7 linked regions of the Homo sapiens genome follow. The protein of the gene in region 1 purifies or fractionates together with the protein of each later gene. This does not show direct contact. Each region holds a gene or a part of one and is shown in the gene's direction. Other genes may lie near its edges. The genes, in order: UBXN7, METTL16, PLCG2, PLEKHG3, PHF6, WDR11 and KLHL12.

What was found.
Region 2: the proteins of UBXN7 (region 1) and METTL16 purify together in Homo sapiens (affinity purification with mass spectrometry, with the first as the bait; one study listed by BioGRID). This does not show direct contact.
Region 3: the proteins of UBXN7 (region 1) and PLCG2 purify together in Homo sapiens (affinity purification with mass spectrometry, with the first as the bait; one study listed by BioGRID). This does not show direct contact.
Region 4: the proteins of UBXN7 (region 1) and PLEKHG3 purify together in Homo sapiens (affinity purification with mass spectrometry; one large-scale study listed by BioGRID and IntAct). This does not show direct contact.
Region 5: the proteins of UBXN7 (region 1) and PHF6 purify together in Homo sapiens (affinity purification with mass spectrometry, with the first as the bait; one large-scale study listed by BioGRID). This does not show direct contact.
Region 6: the proteins of UBXN7 (region 1) and WDR11 purify together in Homo sapiens (affinity purification with mass spectrometry; 2 studies listed by BioGRID and IntAct, with this or other methods). This does not show direct contact.
Region 7: the proteins of UBXN7 (region 1) and KLHL12 purify together in Homo sapiens (affinity purification with mass spectrometry; 2 studies listed by BioGRID and IntAct, with this or other methods). This does not show direct contact.

What each region holds. Positions count from the first base shown.
Region 1 is NC_000003.12:196,369,928-196,373,427, reverse strand, and holds part of UBXN7 (UBX domain-containing protein 7), read left to right. Parts: intron 1-1,385; coding exon 1,386-1,532; intron 1,533-3,500. UniProt on the Homo sapiens protein: Ubiquitin-binding adapter that links a subset of NEDD8-associated cullin ring ligases (CRLs) to the segregase VCP/p97, to regulate turnover of their ubiquitination substrates.
Region 2 is NC_000017.11:2,477,389-2,480,888, reverse strand, and holds part of METTL16 (RNA N(6)-adenosine-methyltransferase METTL16), read left to right. Parts: intron 1-3,003; coding exon 3,004-3,203; intron 3,204-3,500. UniProt on the Homo sapiens protein: RNA N6-methyltransferase that methylates adenosine residues at the N(6) position of a subset of RNAs and is involved in S-adenosyl-L-methionine homeostasis by regulating expression of MAT2A transcripts.
Region 3 is NC_000016.10:81,782,291-81,785,790, forward strand, and holds part of PLCG2 (1-phosphatidylinositol 4,5-bisphosphate phosphodiesterase gamma-2), read left to right. Parts: intron 1-3,500. UniProt on the Homo sapiens protein: The production of the second messenger molecules diacylglycerol (DAG) and inositol 1,4,5-trisphosphate (IP3) is mediated by activated phosphatidylinositol-specific phospholipase C enzymes. It is a crucial enzyme in transmembrane signaling.
Region 4 is NC_000014.9:64,738,924-64,742,423, forward strand, and holds part of PLEKHG3 (pleckstrin homology domain-containing family G member 3), read left to right. Parts: intron 1-2,112; coding exon 2,113-3,500. UniProt on the Homo sapiens protein: Plays a role in controlling cell polarity and cell motility by selectively binding newly polymerized actin and activating RAC1 and CDC42 to enhance local actin polymerization.
Region 5 is NC_000023.11:134,425,312-134,429,290, forward strand, and holds the end of PHF6 (PHD finger protein 6), read left to right. Parts: coding exon 1-19; exon of another isoform or gene 20-349; 3' UTR 350-3,479; downstream 3,480-3,979.
Region 6 is NC_000010.11:120,903,362-120,906,692, forward strand, and holds part of WDR11 (WD repeat-containing protein 11), read left to right. Parts: intron 1-685; coding exon 686-781; intron 782-1,284; coding exon 1,285-1,450; intron 1,451-1,957; coding exon 1,958-2,055; intron 2,056-2,514; coding exon 2,515-2,660; intron 2,661-3,331. UniProt on the Homo sapiens protein: Involved in the Hedgehog (Hh) signaling pathway, is essential for normal ciliogenesis.
Region 7 is NC_000001.11:202,917,235-202,920,734, reverse strand, and holds part of KLHL12 (kelch-like protein 12), read left to right. Parts: intron 1-826; coding exon 827-980; intron 981-2,346; coding exon 2,347-2,564; intron 2,565-3,500. UniProt on the Homo sapiens protein: Substrate-specific adapter of a BCR (BTB-CUL3-RBX1) E3 ubiquitin ligase complex that acts as a negative regulator of Wnt signaling pathway and ER-Golgi transport.

The sequences.
Region 1 (3,500 bases):
TGCTTTTCTGCCATTGTTTTCCACTCAGCAGCATTTCATGGGTCTTTATGCTGACAAGGGACTGACAGGCAAAAAGTACGCACTAACGATTGATGTATCGATATCTGTTGTACGAATCGTAGAGTTGTTTGGGGATCATTCTCAAACATTCTTTGACCTTGTAATCCCAATTTTTGGAATCTACTCCTAGGAAGACAACTCTTAAGAGAAAAAACTCTCAGCAGTTTTTACTAAAATGTTTAGGGTGATTCTCCAAAACAGCATATATGCCTAATAACTGAGATTAATATGATGTTTAAAAATGTTCCAGAAATGATGTTGAAGAAAACAAAGTAAAATATACACACCAATTGCATTCATTAAAAAGAAGTATAATTGGCTGGGCGCGGTGGCTCACGCCTATAATCCCAGCACTTTGGGAGGCTGAGATGGGTGCGTCACCTGAGGTCAGGAGTTTGAGACCAGCCTGGCCAACATGGTGAAACCCCGTCTCTTTACTAAAAATATATAAAAAATTAGTCAGGCATGGTGGCACACACCTGTAATCCCAGCTACTCGGTAGGCTAAGGCAGAAGAATCACTTGAACCTAGTAGGTGGAGGTTGTAGTGAGCCGAGATCGTGCCATTGTTCTCCGACTTAGGCAACAAGAGCAAAGCTCGTCTCAAAAAAAAAAAAAATTGTTGATGGAGGTTGCAAGAGAATAAAATTACGTGACTTGTTGATCTTAAGTTTGTTGAATCCTTTTCAGGTAAAGATGTTTAAACATACATTAAAAATTCAGCCATTACCGGTCATGATGAGTCACACCTGTAATTCCAGCACTTTGGGAGGCCAAGGTGGACGGGTCATTTGAGGTCAGAAGTTCGAGACCAGCCTGGCCAACATGTTGATACCCCATCTCTACTAAAAATACAAAAATCAGCCAGGCGTGTTGGGGCACGCCTTTAATCCCAACTACTTGGGAGGCTGCGGCGGGAGAATCACTTGAACTCAGGAGGTGGAGGTTGCAGTGAGCCGAGACTGCCCCACTGTACTCTAGCCTGGGCAATAGAGTTAGACTCTGTCTCAAAAAAAAAAAAAAAAGAAAGAAAGAAAGAAAGGAGAGAGAGAGAGAGAGAGAGAGAGAATCAGCTATTATAACAAATAACTGGATAAAAGAGAAATGAGTTCATTTAAATTTGAGCAGTGCTTGAAATGGACAGTATAGCTATAAATGCATATGCGAAGTAAATATATAGAATGTATAAATGCTGAAAACTCTAGATGTCGTATCTGGCAAAAACTTAGTATTTTTAATGAAAGACAACAACCTCTGAACAACTACGGAAACATCTGTCACTAAGTAGAAATTATTTCTAACAAATGTGTAACTTTACTCTTGCAGGCCAAAGAGTGTGGCCAGATGCAAAATAAGTGGCTGATGATAAACATTCAAAATGTTCAAGACTTTGCATGTCAGTGCCTCAACCGCGATGTGTGGAGCAACGAAGCTGTGAAGAATATTATCCGGGAACATTTCATTTTCTGGCAGGTGAGAAGGAGAGTTAATCAGAAGTTTTGTAGAATTTTACTTTTGTAGTGTGGGTTGTTGAGGGAAAGGAATTGGGTTATAATGAATTAAGACATTTAAAAAAAGGTAAAGCCGGCTGGGGGCAGTAGCTCACGCCTATAATCCCAGCACTTTGGGAGGCTGAGGCCGGCGGATCACCTGAGGTCAGGAGTTTGAGACCAGCCTGGCCAACATGGTGAAACCCTGTCTCTCCTAAAAATACAAAAAATCAGCCAGGTGTGGCAGCAGGCACCTGTAATCCCAGCTACTCGGGAGGCTGAGGCAGGAGAATCACTTGAACCCGGGTAGCGGAGACTGCAGTGAGCCAAGATCACACCATTACACTCCAGCCTGAACAATAGAGCTAGACTCCATCTCAAACAAAACAAAACAAACAAACTGTACTGTTCAGTAGAAATATATTGTAAGCTGTACACATAATTTAAATTTTTCCAGTAGCCACATTAAAAAAGATTAATCAAAATAGATGAAATTAACTGTAATAATGTATTTGGTTAAATCAATATATCTATATAACTAATACAAAAATAATGAGATGATCTGCATTTATTTGGTGTTGAGTCTTCAAGATATGGTTTGTATTTTATACTTACACCCCTTCTCCATTTGGAGTAGCAAGATTTCAGGTGCTTCAGTAGCCACTTGTGGGTAGTGGTTGCTGTATTAGACAGTGCAGGTATAGAAGATCTTGAGGTAATTGGAAGCATTTGGCTAAGACTTAGATTTTAGCTTGAGTTTGATACTTTTTAACTCTGTGTTCTTAGACATGTCACTTTAGTCTTCCCAGCTAATGAGATAAGGTTACAGACCTTGTATCATTTTTCCCCCACTGTGAGACAGGGTTTTGCTCTGTCACCCAGGCTGCAATGCAGTGGCATGAACATGGCTCAGCCTTGACCTCCTGGGCTCAAATGATCCTTCCACCTCAGTTTCTTGAGTAGTTGGGACCACAAACATGCACCACTATGCCCATATAATTTTTTTTTTTTTTTTTTTTTTGTAGAGATGGGGTCCTGCCATATTGCCCAGGCTCGTCTCGAACTCCTGGGCCCAAGCCATCTGCTTCCCTTGGCTTCCCAAAGTGCTGGGATTATAGGCATGAATCACCGTGCCGGCTCAATTTTTTTATTTTTTATTTTGTGAAAAGTTATAGAAAATAAAAACTTATGAAGGAGCTTAATTTTTTCCCCTACTGTAAGATATGCTATTAATGTTATTAATTTGCCTGTTTATATTTTACAGGCCCCTAAATTTAATGTAACTTTAATGGTAAAATTCCTTGTATTTTATTCAACAAATATTGATCGAGCAGCTCTTTGCTTAGCACTGTGCTGGACTCTTGAGCTTATAATCTTTTTTTCTTTCTTTCTTTTCTTTTCTTTTTTCTTTTTTTTTTTAAATAAATGGACAGGGTCTTGCTCTGTCACCCAGGCCGGAACACAGTGGTGCAGTCATAGCTCACTGCAGGCTCTAACCCCTATAGGCTCAAGGGATCTTCCCACCTCAGTCTCCTGAGTTGCTGGGACTATAGGTGCACACCATTAAACCTGGCTAATTTAAAAACAAACAAACAAACAAAAAAAAACAAAAAAACTTCTCGTGGAGATGCCCAGGCTGGTCTCAAACTCCTGGCCTCAAGCTGTCCTCTGCCTCTGCCCTACAAAGTGCTAGGGTTATAGGTGCGAGCCACCATGTGGAGCCATAATCTTTTTTTTTTTTTTTTTTTTTTGAGACAAGTCTTGCATTGTCGCTGGGCAGGAGTGCAGTGGCACGATCTCAGCTCACTGCAGTCTCTGCCTCCCGGGTTCAAGCGATTCCCCTGCTTCAGTCTCCCGAGTAGCTGGGACTACAAGCGCCTGTCACCAGGCCCGGCTAATTTTTGTATTTTAGTAGAGACGGGGTTTCACCATGTTGGCCAGGATGGTCTCA
Region 2 (3,500 bases), on another chromosome or scaffold:
TTATTTTTAGCATCCATTGATAATTCTTAATTGAAACAATTATTAGCATGGCGATTGCCAAATGTAATTATCTAACTCTTTCATTACTTCTACATTTAAGGATGGACTCATGTATTTTATTCTATGGTCTATAATCCTTTGTTAGCCTTCTTCATTCACATTGACACAGATTTGGCCAAAGGGAGCCCCATCAAGCAGGGTCTAGTGTACTTCTGATTTGTTTCTATCTTCCTTTCAGCATGTCCTGTTTTCTAATACAATAAAATGCTTCGGGTTTATCTTGTACTTCCCTTTCCAATTCTGGAATAACCATTTATCCAAGGAACTCCGATTCCTTTGGGGAGTGCTATTTGGAAACCAAGGTCTGGCACTCTAGGTATGCTCGTAGCGATGGGAGCGTCATTGCTTCCAGGCTCTGGCTGTGTCTCTTCAGGGTCCACTATAGTCATCCTGTTTCTGTCTGCTGTAGATTATATTAAAGCTTCATTCTTCATCCCTTCCATTTTCCTCCCTATAAGTTAGTGTCTGGAAGCATTCTTAGAGGTCAGACGAAATCATTATATTCAGGTATGGAATGCAATTTTTGTATAGATAACAAATCTATATTCATGAAATCTGATGCTGCCCATCATCCATCTTTTTGCAAGGTCTTTTCCTGTGAAAGGTATGTTTTTTCTTTTCTTTTCTTTTTTTTTTTTTTTTTGAGACAGAGTCTCTCTCTGTCACCTAGGCTGAAGTGCAGTGGCACAGTCTCGGCTCACTGCAACCTCTGCCTTCCGGGTTCAAGCGATTCTCCTGCCTCAGCCTCCTGAGTAGCTGGGATTACAGGCATGCGCCACCATGCCTGGCTGATTTTGTATTTTTAGTAGAGTTGGGGTTTCTCCATGTTGGTCAGGCTGGTCTCGAACTCCCAACCTCAGGTGATCCACCCACCTCAGCCTCCCAAAGTGGTAGGATTACAGGTGTGAGCCACCGTGCCCGGCCAGTCCTTTACTTTTATAGGTGGAGAAACTGAGACCTAAGAACTGAAGTGACTTACGTCCATGGCAAATTGATTGCAGAGCCAAAAGTGGAGTCCAGATCTCCTAACTTCCATACTAGAACATTTTTGCTGTGGGGAGTGGAGAGAGATTGGGTTGATGGTACCTGCCTGAAGTTTCCATGGTTGCTGGGTGGAAACAGCACTCTTCCTTCTGTCTTGGCACTCAAGCATCCCGATGGACATTGAATTTTTCCAATGATTGGTCATTTGATGACCAGGCAGGGGAGCAGAAAAGGAGATAGTACAGACCAGAAGCTGTTTGAGGATGTGTTGTTGCCTGACCAGACACCTTGAGGCCAGAATTCTAAGTAGTTTCAAAACTCCTCCCTTTCATACCCCATCTACTGACTTTCTGCTTTCTTCAAAATGCTCTGTTGGCCAGGTGCAGTGGTTCACGCCTGCAATCCCAACACTTAGGCTGAGGCGGGAGGATTACATGGGCCCAGGAGTTCAAGACCAGTTGAGGCAACATAAGGGGCTGGGCCCTTTTCTCTACGAAAAAAAAAAAAAAAAAAAGCTTAGTGTGGTGGTATGCACCTGTAGTCCCAGCTACTTGTGGGGCCGAGGCAGGAGGGTCACTTGAGCCTGGGAGGGTGAGGCTGCAGTGAGCCATGATCACACCGTGCATTCCAGTCTGGGAGACAGTGAGGACCTGGCTCAAAAACAAAACAAAACAAAACAAAACCCACAAAAACCAAAAAAGACCCTGCTCTGTTTATAAATAAGGTCTGTTGATATTCTTTTTTAATATTTTCAGTTTAGCAGTATTTTGACATCAACATAGTTATATTGGTACAAGTTTCTTAAAAGGTTAAATACAAATATATCTTATGATCCATTCCTGACTGTCTACCCAAGAGCAGCGAAAACGTATGTCCACACAAAGACTTGTATGTAAATGTTCATAGCAGCATTGTTCGTGATGGTCAACAATCCATCATGACCGTGATGGAAACAACCCAGATGTTCAGGAACTGGTGAATGGATAAACAAAATGTAGTCATTCTTACTATGGAACATTATTCGCCCATAAAAAGAAGTGAAACACTGACAAGTTACAAAATGGATGAACCTCACAAACTTGTGTTAAGTGACCAGAAGACCTCATTATGATTTCAGTTACTTGAAGTGTCCAGAAAAGGCAAATCTATGAAGACAGAAAGTACATCAATGGTTGCCTCAGGCTAACGTTGGAAATGAGGAAAGACATGCAAATGGTCATGAGTTCTGCTTTTTGGGGTGATAGGAGTGTTCTAAAAGTGGGTTTTGGTGATGGTTGCACGACTCTGTTAATATACTAGAAACTATTCAATTGTACACTTACAGGTGAATTTTATAGTATGTGAATTATACTTCATAAAGCTTTAAAAAGTTACATTTAAAATTTGATGTCTGTAATATTTGTCATATTTAAGTATCTTATCCTGTGTTCATATTAAACATTTTTATACTGACTTCTTTCCACTTTTAAGTAGGATTTTCAAGGAATGCTAATGTCAGATGATGTTAATGGTAAGAGTAAAAACAGCTAGCATTTGTAAAATAGTTATTATGCACCAGACATTATGCTAAGTACTTCTCAGGTCATCTCACAGTAGCATTGTGATATTGGTATTACTGTCCTCATTTCACAGCAGAGGAAACACTTTCATAGAGGTAAATGACTTGTTCAAAGTCACACAGTGAGGAGACGACGAGACAGGAATTTGAGCCGAGTCATTTAATCTCTGTGCTCCATATACGGATATGCAGTGTTTTTGGTGGAGGATTGTACTGATTTTCATAAGCTGTGACTGTGTGAAACACTCGTGTATGTGCCACTGGGATGAGTGCTCTGTGTAACTGTGTGTGATCTCCCTGGGAGGTTCGGATGGGTATTTGGTTCTGCCTGTTTGCCGTAGAGCTTGTACAACATAGTGAATCTTACTAATCAGTTTTACTTCCTTTTCTTTATTCCTCAGCCTTAATTTTAAAGACCCCGAAGCAGTCAGAGCTCTGACGTGTACTCTCCTAAGGGAAGATTTTGGACTTTCTATTGATATTCCATTGGAGAGACTAATTCCCACAGTTCCCTTGAGACTCAACTATATTCACTGGGTAGAAGATCTGATCGGTCACCAGGATTCTGACAAAAGTACTCTCCGAAGAGGAATTGACATAGGTATATCATTTTAAATTCTTTTTTGGCTAAACAGTTTTCATAAGTTTTGCGAGATCAAATTCTTTGTAAACTTTTCTACTGGGTATTTGTTGTTGTACAAAAGAAGCTGGCTACAGATACAGGTTGAGCATCCTTAATCCGAAAATCCGAAATGCTTCAAAATCTGCAACCTTTGAGCACTGATGTGTTGCTCAAAGGCAATGTGCGTTGGAGCGTTCCAGATTTGGGGGTTAGGGATGTTCAGCCTGTAAATATAGTGCACATATTTCAAAATCTGAAAAAAAAATTGAAATCCAA
Region 3 (3,500 bases), on another chromosome or scaffold:
CAAACTCAGCCATATTTGTATTTACAAAATAAGTCATTTTATAGAATTACCCATTAAGAATGGGAAACAGGAACAAAAAAGGGATTTCAAGGCTTTTTTTTTTCTTTTTTTGAAAAAACCAAAAAAAGCAGAAGCAAAATGGAAGTTGCTGTGGTGGCTGGTGCTCTCTCCTGGGCTCAAGGTCTTGGAGACCTCCCTGCCATAGTTGATAAAGCGTGGAACGCTGGAGACCTGAGCTGGGTGCTGGCAGGATTTGAATGGTGGACTCCAGGGATCTTTTGGCCGTGAAGATCTGTTTCCAATTGCATCTCATAAGCTCATTCATGTTCTTGTATCTCACAAGCTTATTTAGAAGGGCATTTCGTGAGATACAAGAACCCCAAACCAGAAATCAAGGAAGTTTTTCTCTTCAGTGCTCTGTGCATGTTAAGCCAGTACAGGATTTCATCCAAAATCCCACAAAACGATTCTGTTAAAATGGGGCACAGGCAAATACTTGAGTGGTAAGGGCCCCTCCAACAGTTGAATGGACATTACTGCTGCACCTTACACCCACCCTGCAGCATCAGAGGGGATACAGTGTTTTCAAAGGAACGGTGTCAGCCACTGCAGGTGAGAGTGTAAATTCCACCCCTGCTCCTTTAGGGCAACCTGTGAGCAGCTATTACAAAGCAATTGGTGAGACGCAGCATGGAAGTCTGGTGTTTATGGCTGAGTTGATCCACTGGGCTTCGAAGCTGGAAGTAACTGGGACCCTGGGGAAGGTTAAGTCCAAGGCCCTCCCAGAGTGAGGGCTGGAAAGAACTGAGGAGCCTGGTCCCTTGTCCTGGTTTCTGTCTAATTGAAGGTGTTATAATGGGGCTTGTGTTTCCTACTTATGTTCCAGTGGACTATGGCCTAGAGACCTGGGAGTGGGGAACTCCAGGATGCATGGCTGGGAACAGTCAACATAGTGAAGAGCTCTGTGGTTGGCAGCTGGGTCAAATCCAGTTTCAGCTACTTTTTTAAAATTTTATTATTATATTATTATTATGCTTTAAGTTTTAGGGTACATGTGCACAACGTGCAGGTTTGTTACATATATATACACGTGCCATGTTGGTGTGCTGCACCCATTAACTCGTTTTGCTACTTTCTATCTGTGTGACCTCGGATAAGTCCCTTAACCTCTTTTGAGAGTGGCAAGTACTGGCAAATCAGTTAATATCTGGCCAGATGCTGCCACAGGATTCTGGACTAGGGGCTTGGGACTCAGGTGAGGGTTTTGATCTTTGTGCTGCTGCTGGTCTACATGACTTTGATCAAGTAATGTGACCTCTTGGGATTTCAGTTTTCCGCTGCCGTATTTCCCATTGAGATAAATGAGACGAACCAGACACAACAGGTGCTTGGCACCTGGGGAAGGGCCCAATAAATGGCTGCTTAACAAGGATGAAATGGACCATGGGGGCACCTTGTTCATCCCTTTGTCCTGGCTAATGATCAGGAGGTCATTTTGGGTTTCTCCTGATAAGGTAAGATGCACATTAACTCTCAGCAGGGTTTTTTTTTAGCATACTCTGTTCTGCCTCCTAGCCTTTGCTTAAACTTAAAGCCAGTTCCTCCTGCTTCATCTTTTTTGAAAGATTGAGTTCAGATGCCTGCTTTTTTCCCCTGAAAGCTTTTTCTGAGCCCTTTAAGTGCCTAGCCACACTCCAGATTAAATTTAGGATTCCTTCTTGCTGCTCTCTGCCCGCCGTGCCCCCAGTGCATGCTTCTGCTGCTGCACTTGTAACTACATTAGAATTCTCAGTTGATTAGTCTGTTTCCCCATGGGCAGAGAGCAGGTGTAATTATCTCCTGCTGCTGGCATGGCTGACCGAGGAGGTCCCTTTGGTATGGGTGTGCAGTAGAGGGAGGTGGGGGCAAAGGGCAAATCCTGGGCCCCTCCCCATTCCCCTCATTTGCATCCTAGTCCCCACCTCAGTGCCTGGCATAGAGTTGACATTTGATTAATGCCTTCCCCAATGGCTGATTAATGCTAACTGAGACCCTGGTAAATGCTGCAGGCTGTGCATACATTGTAGCTTTTTGTCTTCCCAGCTGCCCCTTGTGGGCATTTAACCTCCATTTTACAGATGAGGGAACCGAGCCACAGATTTAGAGCAGCTTGGCAGAAGGCTGAGCCCGGCTGGAAGCACAGACAGCCCTGGCTGAACACCAGCCTCTCACTCCTCCTTCTTTGGATCCTGGGAGGGTCTCTCTAGTGCTACTCTGTAACCTTGAGAGCTACAGAGTAACAACTCCAGGCACCTCCAGGGACTTGGAGGGAAAGGAGGAGATAAGAAACAGAACAAATAATGGTAATTTTAACAATAGCTTAATCTAAGGAGTGCTGACTTTGTATCATTGTTTTAAGGGCCTGAGATACATTATCTTGTTTAAGCCTTACAAAAACATTTAGATGGTGGATACTGTTACCTTCTTTTATGGGACTGGAAATGAGCCCAGAGGATCTAAGTGACTTCTTGCAGCCTAGCTGGCAAGGGGGTCCCTGGTGGTTCAGCTCCAGGGCCTGGGGAGCGCCTTCACTCTAAGTCCTATTTTGGGGGCAGGCAATGTGTTTCTGGGGATTTGGGAGGCAGAATGAGGGAATGGTACAGAGTGAGGGCTCAGGGAGGGACTAAGGGATTTTGAGCAGAGGAGTGACATGATTTGATTCATGTTCTAAAAGGATCCTTCTGGCTCTGCATCTGAGAATTGACCCTAGCAGGTCAGGGAAGAAGTGGGGAGAGCAGGATTAGAATAGTTCAAGTATGAGATCCTAGGAGGAGCCGGTGAAAGGGTGAGATGCGTTGGAAGTGGTCGTGAGAGAGTCCACGCAAGGATTCCTCCAAGGTTTTGGGCCCAAGCACCTCTCTGACACTGACCACCCACAAGCATAAACAGCAATCAAGGACACCTCCTAGGTGCTGGCCGTCACCCCAGGTGCTTTGCTGGGGCATTTCTGAACACTCCCATTTTAAAAAGGCTAAAACTGAGGCACAGAGAGGTCAAGCAGTCTACCCAGAGCTACACAGTCAGCAGGAACCTTCTCTAGGGTTTGAACGTGAAGCTGCCAAGACCTGACATTTCCTGCCTTTCATCCTCATTTCTATGCAGAGGAACCATTTGCCAAAGTCTCCATGGATGATTCTGAAGGTTTAGTTTGTTTTTCGTTTATTTCATTTTTTTTTTTTTTTTGTTCTTAATTTTGCTCAGGAATAAAGAGATGGTTAGAAATCTCTAGACAGGATAGAGAAGGATGTTGGAGATTAGGGGTGAGAGGTGGGAGCCAGGCTGGGCTGCTTTGGCTATTCAAATATTCTTTAGGATAAGAGTGGGTGGGGAGAGAGGGGACTCACTGCCAGGTCAGGGTGATTTGGTTATTCAAAGCCCACGTAACGGTTGGGTCCTTGAGGTCAGGGGCTCTTCTCACACTTCAGTTTCCATTTAAACCTTTGTGTCCTGCCTTAGCTCTC
Region 4 (3,500 bases), on another chromosome or scaffold:
TAGGGCTTTCAGGCACAGGCTCTCCCACTGGGCCCATGGGAACAGAGATTCCCCACCTCCCAGGACTCTCAGCCCTGCATGAAGCCTGTTTGGCCTAGAGTATATGGTTTGGTGAGCAGACCACCCCTTTCTATGAAGTAGAGAAAGGCTCCCCTTTGGGCAGATGCAGTCCCATGTCAAGGGCACGCAGCTAGTGGAAATGAACCAGGTATTAGGCTCCTTTCGTTAGGCCACCTTGTATGGGTTATAAGGCCCTGTCCCTGCCAGCATGCCAGACATTGAAATCACACCTGTGGTCACCTGGGCAAAGGGTAGAGAACTGATATCTGTTGGACACCTCCTCTGTAACTGATGTGTTATTTCTTCCTACTCTTCCCCACAATGGCTCTAGAAGGAAAAGGGCACTGAGTGGTTGATGGCGTGCCTAACACTGAGCAGCTTCTGAGGCGCGGGGCTGAGATCAGACCTGGGGCTGGGACTCAGAGGCCCACTCTCCTCCTCCTGCTGCCCTATGCTGTCTGTGGGTTGTAGGAAGCAGCATCCTTTACTTTCCCAAAGTTATAAGGGAAAGATCGTGAGCTACAGCCTGGACCCCATGTTGGACCCCACAGCCAGGACTGAGAAGCCTGGATGATACTGGACAGGAATGTAGCATGATGTCTTAGCTTGAGCTGCTGTAACAAAATCCCTTACTGCTACGTGGGTAGCTTAGTTATTGCTCACAGTTTTGGAGGCTGGAAATTCTAAGGTCAAGATGCCAGCAGACCCTGGGGAGGGCTTGCCCTCTGCTTCGTAGATGGTGGCTTCTTGCTGTGTCCTCACATGGCAAAGGGGCAAGGAAGCTCCCTTGATCCTCATTTGTAAGGGATCTGACCCCACTCATGAGGATGGAGCCCTTGTGACCTAATTTCCCAAAGGCCCCCCCTCTCATTCCCATCACACTGGGTGTTAGCCTCCACATGGCAATTTTAGAGATACACAGACATTCAGAGCAGAGCAAATTGGGGTGTCAAATAATAATACAATGAGAACCACCCATTACAAAGTTTAAAAGAAGCAGATGAAATTAATTTTAGTAGTATATTTTATTTAACCCAATGTATACAGAGTATTATTCTAACATGTAATCAACATAAAAAGTTACTGATATGTTTTATCCCTTTTTTTATACAGAGTCTTTGCAATCTGGTGTGTATTTTATCCCAAGAGCAGGTTTCCATCTGGCCTAACCCCATTTCGGGTGCTCAGAAAGCCACAGTGGCTGGTGGCTCCCATGTTGAACAGTGCAAGTCTAGATCATGGGTCTTGCTCTGCAGATTCTGAACTAGAACAGAAGGAATTATGTCCGATCTTATAATTAGTGTTTGCTCTTATCTCCTTAAAGACTGCTCTGGAAAGCCGCGTATGTCATCAGTTCTGTGGTTCAAATTACTTTCAAGGTGGTCAAGAGGGAATTCTCAAGTTTGCTTTCTTCCTTGCCCATTTCCTGGGCATATGCAGTTGTGCTGGGCCCACAGGTACTGGGAGGAGCCACATTCCTGGTCCTCATCCTCTGACGAGATTCCAGCATGTGGCTGTGTTGCTCTCTAGACCCTAATCCACATGGGAGGCCCTGTCCCCTGAGGAAAATGAAATGGCCTCTCATGTTGTGCAGGTCTGGGTTTGAACCCTAGAACCTCCAAGTGAGGAGCCTCTAGGGCTTTGGGGAGCTGCCTCACCATCAGCCATGCTGGTTCCATGACACTGTGAGAACCAGCCCCTGGGAACCTGGGGCCATGCCCAACCCACTGTTGTGTGTTCCCACCTTGTCCCTGTAGCTCCTAGGCTGGCTGCCATCAAGGTGTTGCCATCCTGACCCATCTGCATTCTTACTGTTTTCCTTGGTTTTGAGGACATGGGCCCAGCACCCCCACTGTACGGTGACTAAAGGACACAGTCATGTTCCTCTAAGGACCCATCACCTACTCCTAAGTCGTGCTCATTCTGATTGCCTTGAGTCCTAAACTACAGGTCCCTGTCATTGGGCCTTGAGCAGGCCATGCTGTCCCCTTGTTCCCCGGATCCCATGAAGGAGGCTTTTTACTCATGTGAGCCTTTTCTGCTATGTTTCAGGTTGAGCCGGACCCTGAGGCTGGGAGTGAGCAAGAGGTATTTTCTGCTGTGGAAGGGCCCAGTGCCGAGGAGACGCCTTCAGACACAGAATCTCCAGAAGTCCTGGAGACACAGCTTGATGCCCACCAGGGCCTTCTGGGGATGGACCCCCCAGGTGACATGGTGGACTTCGTGGCAGCTGAGAGCACTGAGGACCTTAAGGCCCTGAGCAGCGAGGAGGAAGAAGAAATGGGAGGTGCCGCCCAGGAGCCTGAGAGCCTTCTGCCACCCTCTGTGCTGGACCAGGCCAGCGTCATTGCGGAGCGATTTGTCAGCAGCTTCTCTCGGCGGAGCAGCGTGGCACAGGAGGACAGCAAGTCCAGTGGCTTTGGGAGCCCGCGGCTGGTCAGCCGGAGCAGCAGCGTGCTCAGCCTGGAGGGCAGCGAGAAGGGCCTGGCCCGGCATGGCAGTGCCACAGACTCCCTCAGCTGTCAGCTCTCCCCAGAAGTGGACATCAGTGTGGGGGTGGCCACAGAGGACAGCCCTTCTGTCAATGGGATGGAGCCCCCAAGCCCAGGCTGCCCAGTGGAGCCTGACCGGTCTTCCTGCAAGAAGAAGGAATCAGCACTCTCCACCCGAGACCGGCTGTTGCTAGACAAGATTAAGAGCTATTATGAAAATGCAGAACACCATGATGCAGGCTTCAGCGTCCGTCGCCGGGAGAGCCTCTCCTACATCCCCAAAGGACTGGTAAGAAACTCCATCTCCAGGTTCAACAGCCTTCCCCGGCCAGACCCAGAGCCAGTACCTCCAGTGGGGAGCAAGAGACAGGTGGGCTCCCGGCCGACTTCGTGGGCCCTGTTTGAGCTCCCAGGACCAAGCCAGGCAGTCAAAGGGGACCCACCTCCCATCTCAGATGCTGAGTTCCGCCCATCTTCAGAAATTGTGAAGATCTGGGAGGGAATGGAGTCTTCCGGAGGGAGCCCTGGGAAGGGGCCAGGCCAGGGCCAGGCCAATGGCTTTGACCTGCATGAGCCACTCTTCATCCTGGAGGAGCATGAGCTGGGAGCCATCACAGAGGAGTCGGCCACTGCCTCCCCGGAAAGCTCCTCTCCCACTGAGGGGCGCAGCCCGGCCCACCTGGCCCGGGAGCTGAAAGAGCTGGTGAAGGAGCTGAGCAGCAGTACCCAGGGGGAGCTGGTGGCCCCACTGCACCCCCGCATCGTGCAGCTCTCCCACGTAATGGACAGCCACGTGAGCGAGCGCGTCAAGAACAAGGTCTACCAGCTGGCCCGCCAGTACAGCCTCCGGATCAAGAGCAACAAGCCAGTGATGGCCAGGCCACCACTGCAGTGGGAAAAGGTGGCCCCTGAGAGGGATGGGAAGAGCCCCACTGTGCCCTGTCTACA
Region 5 (3,979 bases), on another chromosome or scaffold:
GCAACTTAATGGAAACTAGGTATGAAAGTTAATTATATGGGATCTGTTGTCAGGATACAATACACACTGATATATACATGTTGAAGTAATGGTATGCAGTAAGATTTTTTTTAATCCTATTATGTTTAGTTAAGAGCATGTTACTAAAATGCTGAGGATTTTGTAGGCTTGCATAGTAGTTGTTTTTTAACTAGCTGATTTTGTAACCATAAAAACAAGCTATCTGCTTTATCAATAAGTGTAGTTGTAATGTCAAATCAATAAGATATTCACACTCCTCAATAACATTATATTGATTGTGTTCCCCTCAAGCATCATATTTTACATTTTTTTATCATCTTTTAAACAGGTTCATGGGACAGAGTTAGAAAACTGGGAATGAATAAGACATCCATAACTACTATTCTTTTTTCACTGTTTTCTAAAATCAAAAAGGGTTTGTAACTTTTTACTGCCCAACTCTTAGATCCTTCATTGAACTGCCTAAAAATGTCTTGTTTGTTTTATGAGCCCTCACTAGAAGGCTGAGTTTGACATGTTGATATTACGTAGCTATAGTTTGCAGTTTCTGGGAAGCAATTGAAACACTATTAACCCTGTGTATAGTGTCAACAGTTAAAGCAGACGAAACGAAGTAAGCTATATTTCTGGACTGAACAAAGCTCTGCTGTTTAGAGCATTTAAGTTTGTTTAGTGGATCCATACTCAAAGGAAAGCATAAGCAAATTTTCCTTTACAATGCAAACATGCCACTGGTGGCAGCACATGGTAATTTGTGGATTTTTTTTTCATACTCAAGTAATGGAGGCTAGAAATGAAGAGAACCTTCTTTTTCTCTTGACTTTGACAGCACATGCTAAAAATCTCTTCCAAGAAGTATGCTAAAGCTTTTCATTTGGTTCCTGTTAAAGTTGTTCTCACTGACCAGCATGGACTCAGGCAACTGGTAATGATAAGCTATGAGCTCCAGTGCTTTTGCCAAAATTCTCTTGACAGCACACCTCCTCTCTTTCCATGTTATACAAAGGACTTCTGGCAAAATGATTGAGTCCTTCAAGTTTAAACTAACATTTGGCAACAGCAAATTAAACGTTTTTAAGATGTAAAGAAAGGGTTACCGCTTGCTAAGGACTTCAGACACCATGTCCGAAACCTGTTCCTCTCAAGTGCCCTGTTGTGTGGAACACTTCACATATTGGCGCACAGTACGTAAGGAGGTCTCATGTGCTGTAGGAGTAAAAAAGTCTTTGCATAAAACAGTATTTATTTTTACTTTTGTGACCACTATTTTAGAAACTTTATTTAATATTTTAATGTTTTCAGTCATTGCTTTGGTTATCTATAAAATAGGCTTTTGTGCCCTACTTTTCTTCTTGTAGGGCTTGGTGGTGTTTTATCGATTGTCAGAATTGTTTTTGAAAGCCTAAGAACCCAGCTTTTTAGAAAGGATTTTCACACTGGCATTTCTAGGTAGTGATATTTTCTTCCACTTACCTGCTGAAGCACATTTATGCATTTCTTTATGGCAAAACCAAATAACTTTAGTTGTGGTCTGCCTGATACTACCATAGCACCTCAGTACCAAGGGGAGGGATTTTGACTAGTTGAATTATTAAGCCACCACAATAAAGCAGATTTTTAAATAAGAAATAATAATGTTAACTTGACTGTACATTGAGATATTCTGCAGCTGATAGAGCAGCATTTTAAAAATGTAACAGGTGGAAAATTACACTGTGCTTAATGACTGATTTTTTTTTAAACTGCGAGTCCCTTAAGATCACGTTTGTCAAGTGTGTATTCACACATTTACTTAAATCAAGGGACTCAATGCTTGCTTTTATTTTAACCATCTTTTACTATTTTTAGAAGGAAACTAGCTTTAGTAGTGGGTTGCCCTGTATGTTTTCTCTTTTTGCTCTTAATATGCCATTGGGTTTTTGTGTGTATGTGATTTTCAAAATTCATGACTTGAAGTGCAAGGACAGATCTAGATGTTTGTTTACCAAGCTATGTGACTTCTCCCAAAGGATCTGTACTTTCTTTCCTTACAACAGCTTGAAAATCATTATTTTAAAATCCTTAAATCACTGTGTCTAGATCATTTTTTACATTGTGTGCCATAGACTTACCCATGGGACAACAGAGCTCCTTCATTTTTGGACAACTACTGTAATCATTTTTTTTTTAGGAAAAATGGAAGGTGCCGGGGGTAATCATGGCCAGTCAATAATTATATAAAGGAGTTCAAATACTATAGCTGTCAGTTGATGAATTTGTTATGTAGTAAAATGTATGACTTTGTATGGGTTTCTTCAGCCCTTTTTCTGCCACTAGCAACCAGAATAGCACTTTACCTTTTGGTTGGCTAGATAAGTGGCTGACTACCTGTTTTTCTCACTGTGGTGTGATTGGCTAAACAATCTCGCATTAAAAATTCAAATGTAAATTGAATTCACATGAAAAATCATGTTTGGTTGTAAACCTCCAATGTTTTGATTCTCTAATCATGTTTTCGTCACATGCTGAGTAAAAGTGCCTTACAATGTAAAAATTGTACAGTACTTATGTTCCCAAGTAGCATCATCATCTTCTGGGTAGTAATTACATTGTGGTATTAATATTTAGAAAAATGGACCTCAGCAGTGTATTTACTGTACATCTCTTAAGTCCTTAACTGTAGTTTTAATAAGCATGACATTATTTGATAAGTATATAACATTTACATCATTTCAAAAAATACTGCCGTTACTGTCTTTTATGCATATTTTAGCCTGAAATTTTGAAGCGTCTTTTTTCTTTCTTTTTTCTTTTTTTGTTTTGTTTTTTGTTATTGATATTAAACAGTGTAATCTTTGCAAGCGTATATTGAAGATTATTCTGGAGCATTTATTGCCTTACCAGAAATGTTAGTAGGAAATGTTCTTTAGAGTAGAAAGATAGACTTGAGTTTCTATACTTTTAAGAAGAGCTCTTTGTTCCTGGGGGAGGGGGGCAGGGGGTGAATTTTACTTTCATCTCAAGTTATTAAAAACCCACAACTGAAGTAAATTTTATTTCAAGAATCAGCAGTTTTAGAATTTCAGATAGTACTTGCTCAGAAGTACATGCTACTCAAGATATTAAGAGATAACAAGATCTGTAGATCTGCTATTGAATCAGAATCTGTGTACTTGAACAAATGTGTGAATCTCAAATATCTCAAAGCAAAAGAAAAAGTGTTCTAGAGTGTTGTTGCTTTTTTAAAAAAAGCGCTGAAGTTAGACCAAGGTATACAGTTTTGTTCTAACAGACATTTAGGTTAATTGTAAAGATAAGGAATGCATTATGGGTCAAAAATCAAACATTCCTCTCATGTTATGTATATTTTGTTCCTGTTATATTGGCTTTATTTTCAAAATTGTAGTTTGTAGTATTAGTTTCCTTTTATTGGTATTCTTGCATATACTATTCATTCAATAAATGACTTATGACTTTCATATTTGTTTGTCTTTTTTGTGAAAGTGTATACTGAAGCTTATTTGATAACAGCAATAGTATTGTGTTCCTTTTAGTCTTGCTTTATTTCAGAGTAAAATGCCTTAATAACTTTTCATTAAACAAGTATGGGAGGAAAAAAAGTGTGAATTTGAATTCAGTTCAAAGTTTCACAATATAAAAGTTTTATCATGGAGAGAAACTGCAATCTTGTAAGTACAATCGAACTGCATTACATCTTGGTTTTTTTATTACATGGTTCAGATGCCCATCGTTTAAATCAGATCCTCTGAAACCTAGTTAGAAGGTTATTTTGAAAATAAACCAAAACTCCTAGTACTATTTATCAGATTGGCAATATGGGTGCAGGATTAATATCCTTGTCATAAAGGGATTTTACCTTATATCTTTAAATGTACTCCCATTACCATGGACAGTGTGCTTCTAGTACAGTGCTCATATATTGAGGTTTGTCACATCCAGGGCAGAAATCAAGTTGTAA
Region 6 (3,331 bases), on another chromosome or scaffold:
TAGCTGGGTGTGGTGGCACGTGCCTGTAGTCCCAGCTACTCAGGAGGCTGAGGGAGGAGAATCACTTGAACCCAGGAGGCGGAGGTTGCAGTGAGCTGAGATCACGCCACTGCATTCCAGCCTGGGCAACAGAGCAAGACTCTGTCTCCAAAAAAAAAAAAAGAAAGAAAAGAAAGAAGCCCTCGGTACATTTGCATTAAAAAAAAAGCCTGATCAAGATTTGAAAAGCTCATAGACAGTTACTGCGTTGTTTACTAAACATTAAAATTTTATTATTAAACAGGCTTGTTTAATTTGTCTTACATTTTTAACTTGGCTTCATTTTAATTCTGTCATTAATTTCCTATAAATAACAAATACTTTATACACTTGGTTTGAATTTGCTGTTCACATGATAATTTCTTTAACCTCCTGCAGAATCCTTCAGTGCACATAGGTTTTTCATCCGGCTCTACTTAAGTGTCAGTTTCTGTAGGCAGGCAGGTATGCATCCAAGTGATAATATCTATCAACATTTTTGCTGTTCAAATTCTTATTAAATGTTTGGGGTGCTGTAAAGTTGATTATCTAGTAACCTGAAAAGTCAAAGTAGTTTATTAAAATGATCTTATTAAGTACAGTAAAATTTAAATAATTCCAAACTCTTATAATCCAGGCTTAATTTTTCTTTTTTTTCCAATTCTAGAAATTTCAGCTAGAAAGGGTTAATCTGCAGGAAGTGAAACGGTCAACTTATGATCATACAAGGAAATGTACAGACCAGCTACTGCTCTTGGGTCAAGTATGTCAGTTTTTATAACTCTACATGCTTCATTAAATTGCTAGTTAATTCGTATTTCAGAGCAATATATCTGTATGTATATATTTCATAATATTTTCCCCTTGTATGTACCTCCTTCCCTGTAGACAGTTTAGGCTTTCTTTCAAAATAATACCAATAAACCTCATGAGAAAAAACATATGGTTAACCAGCTTGTAATTTAGACTTCCATAATGCCCAGTGGAGCCCAGCTATTTGTTTTGTTTTGTTTTTGTGTCTGAATTGACTGGTACAAAGCTAAAATAGGCAATTACTCGAGCACCTAGATACACCAGCCTCTGGCTTTATGTTTGTCTCAAAAAAGTAGTGTAGCACCTCTGTTTAATGTTTGTATTTGTAAACAAAATATTCAATTGCATTTTTTGAAAATGAGTGTTTTCCTTTAGTTTTCTACCTTATGAATTTTAAAAAGTTATGTTGGAGGAAAATGTTCTCATAATTAGAAAAACCGTTTCTCTTACTAGACAGACAGAGCTGTGCAGTTGCTGTTGGAAACAAGTGCAGATAACCAGCATTATTACTGTGATTCACTGAAAGCCTGTTTAGTCACTACTGTCACCTCGTCAGGCCCCTCTCAGAGCACCATTAAGTTGGTGGCAACGAATATGATTGCCAATGGCAAATTGGCAGGTAAGGCACACTTGATATGTTTGTCATCTCTCTGAAAAATGAGACCTTGTTCCCAGCAAAGTATCTGATTAGTAGGGACATTTCTTTCTCTTTTACATATGCTGAAGAAAAATAGAAAAATTATTGCTACCTATAAATCAGATGAATATAATTGTCTAAACCAGAATTAATTGTTTACACTTTTCAGAGTGAAAGGGGGCACTGTTAATAATTGCTGAGATAATAGGCATAAATCCAACAATCCTAGGCAAATCAGAACAATAAAACCTGTGAGAGAACTATGCTCTCCCTACTTATTCTCCAGACTGTATTGTGCTTCCTACCCTGGTTACTTGAGTAATAACAGTAAAACTCTTAATATTATGTTTCAGAATTTAAATCAAGAATGTCTTCAGTAGGTATAAAATGGGCACGACTAGATAAGGTCAAATGGGGATTTAACTTTTTAATGACTTCTCAAAGAAGGAGCTGCAGTGTCACTTAAGGGGATGCGCTTTTGTCTTTCAGAGGGCGTTCAGTTGCTCTGCCTGATAGATAAGGCTGCAGACGCCTGCCGCTACCTGCAGACATACGGCGAGTGGAATCGGGCTGCATGGCTGGCAAAAGTAGGTGGTTCCAAGTTTCAATAGGTGCCCTCAACATTCGGGATAGAAAGCTCAGTCCTGAACTTTGGACTTATGACTTAGAAACATTTTTTGGCCTGCAAAGCTGCTTTGCAAATACTGTCTTGGAACCTTTATCCTTTTCCTATTCTTTATGAGTGTAAATTGCATTACTTATTTAAAAATGGATCTTGCATTGGTAGCAATTAAGTAAAAGCAGCTGCCTCCTCTTTCTCCCAGAGTCTGAGCCGAAACTACAGTCCAGAGGTATAGCCAGGCCCTGGGTCCCGTAGGCACAGACCGTTATCATTATTCAGAGTATGCAGCAGCTTCAGGGCAGTGTGCTAGTCAAGCAGAGCATAGCCTGTATTTCATAGAAACAGATCTCACTTTAACTGAATTATTATTTTTTCTTTATAGAGTGCAGGATGTTTTTGTTGTTAACACAGGCGTCTTTCTCAGGTCCGTTTGAATCCTGAGGAGTGTGCCGATGTTTTAAGGCGGTGGGTTGACCACCTTTGTTCTCCACAAGTCAATCAGAAATCAAAGGCTCTCCTGGTTCTCCTCTCTCTGGGCTGCTTTTTTAGCGTGGCAGAGACGCTTCACAGGTAAACCGAGAGTTCACATGGGCTGCTCAGGCCTGCCCGTGAGCAGTCACTTCATGTTCTCTCGCGGTTCTAGCAGGTCATGGTACTCGATGTGTAAAGTGAAAGGAGAAGTATACATTTCAGGTTTGTCAAAAAACCCAAAGGAGAATGGAACTGTCCGTATTCATTACATCTTCATTCGGTCTAGGAGCTATGCTAGTTTCCTACTAATATGCTGATCAGACTTAACAGGCACCTAGTAAAAGGGAATTTAAAAGTCTTCAGAGAATTGGGGTCCATTCAGCTTTGACTAGAGCAACTGAGAGGAGGCCCAGAGAGCAGGGGGAGAGGCGACAGAAGGCATGGTGAGGTGGAGACATCCCGTCTGAAAATCTGGAAGAGGAACAACCATCACTAATTGTGGAGCATTTCATTTATTCAAAACTAAGGGAGGTAGATTACGGAAATATGACAAAAGATTACTTGTCAACTCTGGACAGGGGTACATGGGCACTTGTCATATCTCTGTAGATTTTTGTGTATTTAAACTATTTCACAATTTTTTAAAGTATTAATTTTAAAAAGCTTGTGTTTGGAGATGTGAGTATTCTTCCCTCCTTTTTTCAACAAACTAGGGCTTAGAAAAGTGCTTGTATCTTAATGCAGTATGCAGGTTTCCAGGGAAAATGTGT
Region 7 (3,500 bases), on another chromosome or scaffold:
TTCATTTGGAAAGCTACAGATAATGTGCCATATTTGCTTTATTAAAATCCAACAAAATTGGCCGGGCGCGGTGGCTCACGCCTGTAATCCCAGCACTTTGGGAGGCTGAGGCAGGCGGATCACGAGGTGAGGAGATCGAGACCATCCTGGCTAACACGGTGAAACCCCGTCTCTACTAAAAGTACAAAAAATTAGCCGGGCGTGGTGGCGGGCGCCTGTAGTCCAAACTACTCGGGAGGCTGAGCCAGGAGAATGGCATGAACCCAGGAGGTGGAGCTTGCAGTGAGCCGAGATGGCACCACTGCACTCCAGCCTGGGAAACAGTGCAAGATTCCGTCTCAAAAAAAAAAAAAAAAAAAAAAAAATCCAACAAAATAGAGCATAATTTTATTTTTTTATTTTCTTTCTTTTTTATTTTTTTGAAATGGAGTCTCACTCTGGTGCCCAGGCTGGAGTGGAGTGGCACAATCTTGGCTCTCTGCAACCTTCGCCTCCTGGGTTGAAGCAATTCTCCTGCCTCAGCCTCCTGAGTAGCTGGGACTACAGGCATGTGCCACCATGCCCAACTAATTTTTGTATTTCTAGTGGAGACGGGGTTTCACTGTGTTGGCCAGGCTGGTCTTGAATTCCTGACCTCAGGTGATTTGCCTGCCTTAGCCTCTCAAAGTGCTGGGATTACAGGCATGAGCCACCACGCCTGGCCTGTAATTTTTAAAGATAAATGTTCAATTAATATTATTAACATCTCTAAGCTCTTAGATATGAGATTCTGCCTTTATCTTGTGGAATTATAACCATCATTCTTTTATACCTTTTGAATTTTCAGCTCTCAGAGAAGGGGAAACCTTATGTTGACATCCAAGGTTTGACTGCCTCTACCATGGAAATTTTATTGGACTTTGTGTACACAGAAACAGTACATGTGACAGTGGAGAATGTACAAGAACTGCTTCCTGCAGCCTGTCTGCTTCAGTTGAAAGGTACAGACATTAAAACTTGCTATTGTTTATGTCAAAATAGCCCTGGAAAGGTTGAAAATTAATAGTGTAAACTTAATCATGAACATTTTGGAGACAAACTATGGATGTTCATGTTTGCTGGCCATGGCTTTTGTCTCATTGAGCAATAAGAGATCAGATGTCAATAGCACTATAAAGGAACTTCTCCAGATATGAGTATTTGGCTCTATAAAAGAGAGCATTTGCACCTTTTCTGTTTTAAAAAAAAAATGGAGGAAGGAGAAATTATGTGTTTTCTTACATACATGTATGTAACACACCTATAAGGAAATATAATAAAAAAGTGATACTATACATAGCCTACATGGATACTCTTTATCTATCTGGCCATTAAGTGGTAGTATTTCATTAAGATACATGAAATTTAAATTGATGCACAAAATATTAAAGTATGATATTTTCACAGGATTACAGGTGGTTTGTTTTCCCTTACAATTCCCAGGTTTTTTGTTTTGTTTTTGAGACAGAGTCTCACTCTGTCACCCAGATTAGAGCACAGTGGTGCAATCACAGCTCACTGTATCCTTGAATTCTTGGGCTCAAGCAATTCTCACACCTCAGCCTCCTGAGTAGCTGGGACCACAGGTGCATGCCACCACACCCAGCTAATTAAAACAAAATTTTTTTGTGTGGAGATGAGTTCTCTCTATGTTGCTCAGGCTGGTCTCAAGCTCGTGGGCTCGAGTGATCCTCCCACCTTGCCTCCCAGAATGCTGGAATTATAGGCACGAGCCACCGTTCCTGGTCCCCAGTTTTTCTTTTTTAACATTCAGTTATGTTTTCAGTTTTTATATATACATAATTGACACACTTTTAGTTTTTAATACATGATTTAAACAGTGTGAAGCTTTTGCATTAGTGCATAGCCATAACATTAAAATACTCTGAACTTTTCAATTAGATAAATATGAGATTTGTTATTACTATCTTCTCCTTTTCTTTCACTCTAGTCTTTTAGTAAGTTTTCATGTAGAGTAGAAAATGGATACATTATGCTGAATTCGCAATTGGTTTTATAGTTTGATTCCCAAGAGTTTTATAGGCATTTTTGTTGAATTGTGCCAGGTCTCTGGATGTGATTCATCTTGCAATACTCATTTTAAAGATTAAGCAGAGACAGGTGTAAAGGTCTTGCTGAAAGTGGCACAGTACATAAGCCAGAAATAGAGTTTAAGTTCCTTAAGCATAGAATTTCTAATCTGTTTCTTAGGTGTTGAAACAAGGGTTCATCTGATAACATGTAGAGAAGATGCTGAGATACAAGAATATATCCTAGATCACACCTGTCCAACTATTCTAAAGTGTTTGCTGCCTGTGTCTGTCCTAGGTGTGAAACAAGCCTGCTGTGAGTTCTTAGAAAGTCAGTTGGACCCTTCTAATTGCCTGGGTATTAGGGATTTTGCTGAAACCCACAATTGTGTTGACCTGATGCAAGCAGCTGAGGTTTTTAGCCAGAAGCATTTTCCTGAAGTGGTACAGCATGAAGAGTTCATTCTTCTGAGTCAAGGAGAGGTGGAAAAGCTAATCAAGTGCGACGAAATTCAGGTACGGATTTGTCTTGATGTTATGGTTTCTTCAAGATTGGGCAATTACAAAACTTGCAAATAGGATGCAGTTACTTACCATCAGGGCTTCATAATTAAGTGTGCATTTTGGCTCAAAGATTTCATTAACCCCTCCTGTACCAAATTTATTTGCATTTTTATGGAGAGGGAGTTTGCCACTTTCTTCAATTAGATATATGATCCCAGTGGGTAAGAATCACTATTCAACAGAGTATAGAATAAGCAGAAATTGGAAGTAAAGTAGGTATCTGTAGACCACTTCTCTATTACCCGTTCACTCATTTCACAAACATTTATTGAGAATATCTACTATGTAGCACTTAACTATGCCAGGTGCTACAGATCCCCAAGTGGGTAAATATAGTTCTTGCTTTCAGAAAATTCACAACCTGCTAGTAGAGACAGAGATATAGACAAAAAAAATGTTATAAAGAGGATCATGAGAATAGTGAGCCTATACAAAGTAAGGACATTACATAGAAGAAAGAAGAATAAACCTTTGCTCAGGAGTGGATCAGAAATGAAGAGACAAAAGTTTGGAAGTGAGGATCTACAGAAGCAGGAGCCAAATCATAACTGTCTTGTGAGGATGCAGCGGTTGGAAGGGAGGGACACATGAACTGGATGTTAAAGGAATAGTAGGCCAGGTGCAGTGGCCTATGCCTGTAATCCCAGCACTTTGGGAGGCTGAGGCAGAACTGCTTGTGTCCAGGAGTTTGATACTAGCCTGGGCAACATGGCAAAACCCTGTCTCTACAAAAAAATAAAATTAGCCTGGCATGGTGGTGAGCACCTGTGGTCCCAGCTACTTGAGAGGCTGAGGTGGGAGGATCTCTGGAGCCTGGGAGTTTGAGGCTGCAGTGAGCCATGATCGCACCACTGCACTCTAGCCTAGGCAACAGAGGGAGACCCTGTC